Linked DNA regions of Homo sapiens. The protein of the gene in region 1 purifies or fractionates together with the protein of each later gene. This does not show direct contact. Each region holds a gene or a part of one and is shown in the gene's direction. Other genes may lie near its edges.

The links. Proteins that work in one complex are often made in the same cells at the same time.
Region 2: the proteins of HDAC6 (region 1) and DNAJA1 purify together in Homo sapiens (affinity purification with mass spectrometry; 4 studies listed by BioGRID and IntAct, with this or other methods). This does not show direct contact.

Annotation. Positions count from the first base shown.
Region 1 is NC_000023.11:48,808,567-48,812,066, forward strand, and holds part of HDAC6 (protein deacetylase HDAC6), read left to right. Parts: intron 1-3,500.
Region 2 is NC_000009.12:33,024,138-33,028,072, forward strand, and holds the start of DNAJA1 (dnaJ homolog subfamily A member 1), read left to right. Parts: upstream 1-1,135; 5' UTR 1,136-1,246; intron 1,247-2,337; 5' UTR 2,338-2,347; coding exon 2,348-2,479; intron 2,480-2,675; coding exon 2,676-2,853; intron 2,854-3,935.

The DNA of each region.
Region 1 (3,500 bases):
AGAGAAGAACTGGGAGAGACGGGATTTGACCCACAAATATTTGAAGATCTTATTCACTGATTAACCGTTGGGTTAGAGTGAACCTCAAATTACTGCTTTATTTTTTCTGATTAGGATAATGCTTCAAAGTGTTTGTTTATCCTTTCAGTAGATAGTAAAAAACAAATATAAATAAATAAATAACAAACTATTTGTTTAAAGAAATTAAATAATACAGAAGTGTCTGAAGCAGTGAGTCTCCTCTAATTTCCATTACCTCAAAAATAAGTGTTGACAGTTTAGGTTATATCCTTACAGATTTTCTCTATAGATGTCTGAATTTTTATTATTATTGTTATAATTATTAATAACACACTGCCTAATGGAATAATTCTCCACATGTTCTTCGACAACTTGCTTTATTCATTTAACAGCATATCTGGGACATTTCTCCATGTTAGTACCTCTTAAAGTATCTCGTTCTTTGTAGTATTCAATTTTATGACTGTACCTCTGGTTATTTAACCCCAGGACTTTTAAGATGCCTGCCAGTTTTTGCTATTACAGGCACTTCTACTGTGAATAGTCTAGTAAATATGTAATTCTGCACTTCTCTGAGTCTATCTGTAGGATGAATTTCTAACAGTGGGTTGCTTGGGCCAGAGAGTCAGCATACTTTAAAGTCTGGTATACACTGCCAGACTTCCCTCCAGGAGGGGACCAGCTTACCCTTCCTGCAGAAAGTGATTGAGCAAGTCCTTGTCAGTAGGAGACATTACTAAGTACATGTCGAGTATCCCTTATATGAAGTGCTTGGAACCAGAAGTATTTCACATTTCAGATTTTTTCAGATTTTGAAATATTTATATTATACTTAGTGGTTGAGCATCCTTAATCTGAAAACCCAAAATCCGAAATACCCCAATGAGCATTTCCTTTGAGCATCATGTTGGCCTTCAAAAAGTTTAGGATTTTAGGGCCGGGTGAAGTAGCTCACTCCTGTAATCCCAGTACTTTGGGAGGCCGAGGCGGATCACCTGAGGTCAGGAGTTCAAGATCAGCTTGGCCAACATGGTGAAACCCCGTCTCTACAAAAATACAGAAAAATTAGCCAGGCGTGGTGGCACACACCTGTATTTCCAGCTACTCAGGAGGCTGAGGCAGGAGAATCACTTGAACCCAGGAGGCAGAGGTTGCAGTGAGCTGAGATCGCACCACTGCACTCCAGCCTGGGTGATAGACTGAGACCCCATCTAAAAAAAAAAAAAAAGTTTAGGATTTTACAGCATTTCAGATTTCAGATTTCTAGATTAGGGATGCTCAACCTGTAGTAGTTTTATCTAGCCTTCTTCCTAGCTGACTACAGAGAATCCACTTATCCAAGATCTGAAGAATCCAATTTAGGTTGGTTGTTCTCTAGACATTGCTTTATTATTTTGCAGCATTCAGTGTTCCTGACAGGTGTCTGCTTTTCATTCCTTTCCAAGTAATCTACTTTCCTCTCTGCAAGGTTATCTTGGTGTTCTTTTTTTTTTTTTTTTAAATTATTAGACAGGGTATCACTCTGTCACCCAGGCTGGAGTATAGTAGCATGATCATAGCCCACTGTAACCTCAAACTCCTGGGCTCAAGCAATCCTCCTGCCTCAGCCTCCCAAGTAGCTAGGACTGCAGGCATGTGCCACCACACCCAGCTAATTTTTTAAATTATTTGTAGAGACAGGGTCTCACTATATTGCCCAGACTGGTCTCGAACTCCTGACCTCAAGTGTCCTCCCACTGCAGCCTCTCAAAGCACTGAGATTACAGGCATGAGCCACTGTACCTAGCCTTGATGTTCTAAACTTTTACCCTGGCCTTTTCACTCTGTTTAATAGTAGGTAGACATTTTACATCTGAAGATTCATGCTTTTCTTAAACTCTTGGAAATTATTTTCTATTAGATCTTTGATAATTTCTTCTTTGTTTTCTCTGTTCTCTTTCTAGGACTTCTGTTAGTCAGATGTTAGACTTCCTGGGTTGATCCTCTATGTCTCTCTCTTTTTTATTATTTATTTATTTATTTATTTATTTATTTTTTTTGAGACAAGGTCTTGCTCTGTTGCCCAGACTGGAGTACAGTGGCACAAATACGACTCACTGCAGCCTCGACCTCCCGGGCTCAAGCAATCCTCATGCCTCAGCCTCCTGAGTAGCTGGGACCACAGGTGCACACCAGCATACCCAGCTAATTTTTTAATCTTTTGTAGAGATGGGGTCTCACCATGTTGCCCAGGCTTCTTATTTTTTATCTTATGTTTTCTGTCTCTTTTTTCTTTTGCTGTGACCTGGGAGATTTTGTCAACTTTATCTTCAAGCCCTTCTGTTGAATTATGTATTTAGATATCCTGTTAAACTCCAAAAGCTCTTTCTTCCTCTCTGTTTCTATGTCCTCTCATACCTGATCTTGTTTTTATAGAGTATGGATTAGAAGTGCCGGCTGGGTGCGGTGGCTCATGCCTGTAATCCCAGCACTTTGGGAGGCCGAGGTGAGTGGATCACTTGAGGCCAGGAGTTCGAGACCAGTCTGGCCAACATGGTGAAACCCCATCTCTACTAAAAATACAAAAATTACCCAGACGTGATGGTGCGCACCTGTAATCCCAGCTACTCAGGAGGCTGAGGCAGGAGAATCGCTTGAACCCAGGAGGCGGAGGTTGCAGTGAGACAAGATCATGCCACTGCACTCCAGCCTGGGCGATAGAGGGAGACCCTGTCTCAAAAAAGGAAGTGCCTTAAGTTTCTTCTGTTGTCTGAGTTATGTCTCTTTATTCTGAGGCTGGTTGAATTATTTTTTTCTTGGTCCTTCTCTTTTATGCTGATGGTTTTCCTCAAATGTCTAGCAATCCTTATTTGGCTATTTATACCCAAGAATGAAGGCCCATTGTAGGGGGCTGTCAGAGGACTACTCTGCTGCAGTGTTTGTAGGTCTGTTTTCCTGAAAGGCATTTCCCCAGAATGGGGACAGGGAATGTCCACTGACAGGTTGCAACTTTAGCGAGTGTGGGCAAGGACCCGGGCATTAGATGGGATCCTGCCAGATGTCAGAACAAAGGAGGCCTCTTCTTTGGGGTAACATCTCTTTTTTCCCTCAGCCTTTCCAAAGTGTATCTGTTGTACTTATCTTTTCCAGTGTAGCTTTGGGCTTTGTTGGTCATCTCTACTGTTTTATTATGGTGGGTTTTTAATACTTCATTAATTTTTCTGGTTTTATCTTTATTAATGTTTTCCTCCGACGTTCTTTATTTTGTTCATTTCTGGCTTCTGGAATTTAATGCTTCAACATTTATCAACTCATTGGCCGATCTCATTTCATCTATACCTGTACCCACTGCCCTCTTCCTGTTTTCCTTCAAAGCTAATCCCAGATACCATATAATTTCTCCTGTAAATATTTCAGAATGCATCTCTAAAACATAAGTACACTTTTTTAGAAAAGCATTACCTTAGTATCAATACCTGAAAATTAACAATAATTATTTT
Region 2 (3,935 bases), on another chromosome or scaffold:
CTAAAGTCTAACTGGGGCTTTTCAACTCTGCATCTCCAGTTCTGTTTTTGTTTTAAATCGAGACGGGGTTTCACCATGTTGCTTGGGCTGGTATCAAACTTCTGAGCTCACGCAATCAGCCCACGCTGGCGTCCCAAAGTGCTGGGATTACACACGTGAGCCACCGAGCGTGGCAAACTCCATCTTTCTTGGTGCTAGATACTGACATACCTGCTGTGTCCCTGGATAAAGAAGCGGACCCCAATTCCCATTAAGCCCCCGTGGTACCATTTTCAAGTCCGAGGTCTTACGTTGCAGATTGTACATCCAGGTTCCCTGACCCGTAGGATTTAAAAGTGAGGTCAAATAATTAAACAAATTGTTTTAGTCAGACACTCTTGCGGCTACTCTGTAGCCAAACTGGGTGAAAACCTGACCAGAGGAGTCCACGGCCCTCTGTACATCAAAGACGGTCCAAACGTCTCACTGTTTAGCTCAGTCCCAGACACACTGAGCTCAATCTGCACGAATCAGCGAGGTCCAGGGCAGATAACATGTGTCTAGGGGCCTGGACTTGCACAAAAAGCCTTAACAACTTCACAATTTGATTAATTATGCCGCCTTGGACCACGCGTGAAAAACAGCAAGACCCAAGGCCTATGCTATTGGTCTGGGGACTAGACCCACCTGGCTCAAGCATTTTTTGCTCGCCACGTTCCCAAAAAGAGAAGAGGCGCCCGTAAGAGGGGGGGGGGGGGGGGCAAGACTGTTCCAAGAGCTTTCCCGTTCACACACAGCTCCCGCTGGGTCACTGTACTCGAGCCCTTCCCGCCCTCGCGGGCCCAGGCGGCCACCCCACAGGTTTGGGAACCCTAGGACTTGCAGTGCTCCTGGGCCATGCCCCACCAGCCGGAGACTTCCGCACTCTCAGGCTCGCTGAGTGGAGAAAAGGGCTCCAGAAGATTCCACGAGCGCCGGGAAGCCGCGCTAGCACCAACACCCACAAGGCCTTTCGGCGCAGCTCCTCCCGACCCGTGCGCCCCCGCGCCGTTGCCCAGGTAACGGCGGGGCGGTGGCAGCGGCCGAGAAGGGCGGGACTTCCGGCGGGTGACGCGCCCGGGTTCGGCTACAAAAGAGGACGGCTGCGGCGCGCCGGGCGGAACTTTCCAGAACGCTCGGTGAGAGGCGGAGGAGCGGTAACTACCCCGGCTGCGCACAGCTCGGCGCTCCTTCCCGCTCCCTCACACACCGGCCTCAGCCCGCACCGGTGAGTTTGAGCCCTCGCGCTGCCCCTAGTCCCCTGGCTGGCGCCATTGGCGCCGGGAAACCGATGGAGCCGCGGTCGGGAGGCAGTTGGCCGCGTGGGTAGGACCGCTGTCAGTTCCTGGGCCCACGATTTCCCTTTTGGAGGGCTGGTGTGGTGCCCTGGCAACCCATCCCCGGCACGCACAGTGAATGGGCCCGAGACCTTTCCTAGACCTCCCTCCTTCCCCAGCCTGGGATCTCCAAGGAGCTACTGTCTTCGGCTGCCCCTCCGTGCGCGCCCCCGCGGCCCCCCTCCCCGTCCGTGCTCGCTCGGGGTGGGGGGGGGGAGTGGGGTTGGCGACCCTGCGCACGCGCACAGGGAGGCAGGGGCGAGGGGCTGCGGGGGGAGCCGGGCGGAGACTGCGGCTTTTGGTTTCGCTTTCTCTGTTTCCCCTCCCTTTGTTTGTTGAGGGCTGGGCTTTCCCCACCGCCACTTGGGTCCAGGGTGGGAGGGAGAAAGGAAGGAAATCGGTCAGCGCCAAGTGCAAGGGGAAACCTGGCAGGTAAACTCTGCCAGCCTGAGGGGCGAGAGGGATTCGGCTGGAGAAGCTGTAAGCCGTGGGCGGTGGAGGGCTTGCTGTGTGGAGCCAGTAACCTGTTCTATAAACCACTCCCCCCCACCACTGTGTGCCCAGACGTCTTTTTCTGGAGAGTATATGGAGTTTATCAGATTTGCCAAAGACAGTGATAGTGTAATGACCGGTAGACTGAACATATCAGTGCTTCTTTTGGTTACAACTGTCACCGCCTCTAGGGCAAACGGGAAGAATCCAGATAATAGTTGTGTTATATTAGTATGGAAGCTTTGGTGTAGGAAAATTGGAACCAGCTGCTAGAAGGCGGCTCTCAGATTATTTCCCGATAATGATTATTTGTTTTGTCTGTTCGAGTTTATAGCTGAATTATCGCAGGAATTGTTACCTTTTTGGTGAAATTTAGGGAAGGTGGTGTTCTTATAATCGGATTTTGCAAAGAGATTGCTCGGCCTTAGCTCTCTTTTTTATTAAAAGCTACCAGTTGAAAGCCGGTTAAAGTTGCATTTTCTTATTTCAGGCAGTAGAAGATGGTGAAAGAAACAACTTACTACGATGTTTTGGGGGTCAAACCCAATGCTACTCAGGAAGAATTGAAAAAGGCTTATAGGAAACTGGCTTTGAAGTACCATCCTGATAAGAACCCAAATGAAGGAGAGAAGGTGAATAGTATCTACTCTTAAACGTATCTGAATAGTTCTTTGCCAGACGTATAGTATTTCTATTATGGCCTGAAATCGAGTATCTAATATAGTAACTATGATCACTTCTCGGCCTTTTTAGCTAAGATCAAGTGTAATGTAGCTAGGTAACACTTGTTTTTTAAAAAATGAAATTCACTCCTCTTTTCTCAAACAGTTTAAACAGATTTCTCAAGCTTACGAAGTTCTCTCTGATGCAAAGAAAAGGGAATTATATGACAAAGGAGGAGAACAGGCAATTAAAGAGGGTGGAGCAGGTGGCGGTTTTGGCTCCCCCATGGACATCTTTGATATGTTTTTTGGAGGAGGAGGAAGGATGCAGAGAGAAAGGAGAGGTAAGAAGAATCTAGTCTTTGTGCAGCTAACTAAAGTTAGCTGTTGGTCAGAGCAGATCTTTGAGAAATCACCCATTTTAAATGCTTGTTTACATGTTGGTATAATGTTGCAAACTGACCACAAATTGCCTCTGATTTATGGTGTCGTGTTTTTTTGTTGTGGTTTTTTTTTTTTTTTTCTTGAGACGGAGTTTCCCTCTTATTGCCCAGGCTGGAGAGCCATGGCGTGGTCTCAGCTCACAGCAACCTCCACCTCCCGGGTTCAAGCGATTCTCCTGCCTCAGCCTCCCAAGTAGCTGGGATTACAGGCATGTGCCACCAAACCCGGCTAATTTTGTATTTTTAGTAGAGATGGGGTTTCACCATGTTGGTCACGCTGGTCTTGAACTGCAAACCTCAGGTGGTGATCCACCTGCCTTGGCCTCCCAGAGTGCTGGGATTACAGGTGTGAGCCACCATGCCCAGCCAGTGGTGTCGCTTTTTTTAAAATGAGATTTAAGGGGCCTAAAAAATAGCCAACAGAGTGGTAGCAAATGACTGCTTCCAAAAATCTTAGATATTATCAAACAAATTATGAGAACAGGCCGCGTGCTGTGGCTCATTCTGTAATCCCAGCACTTTGGGAGGCCGAGGTGGGTGGATCACTGAGGTCAGGGTTCGAGACCAGCCTGGCCAAGATGGTGAAACCCCATCTCTACAAAACTACAGAATTAGCTGGGCGTGGTGGTGGGCATCTGCAATCCCAGCTCCTCTGGAGGCTGAGGCAGGAGAATCGCTTGAACCCTGGAGGCAGAGGTTGCAGCGAACGGAGGTCACGCCACTGCACTCCAGCCTGGGCAACAAGAGTGAATCTCTGTCACAAAAAACCCAAAAAAATCCAAAAATTAGCCAGGCATGGTGGTGCGTGCCTGTAATCCCAGTTACTCAGGAGGGCTGAAGCAGGAGAGTCGCTTGAACCCGGGAGGTGGAGGTTGCAGTGAGCTGAGATCGCCCAATTACACTCCAGCCTGAGCAACACAGCGAGACTCTTGTCTCAAAAAAAAAAAAAAAAAAAAAAAAAGACAAAGTATATAGCAATATAA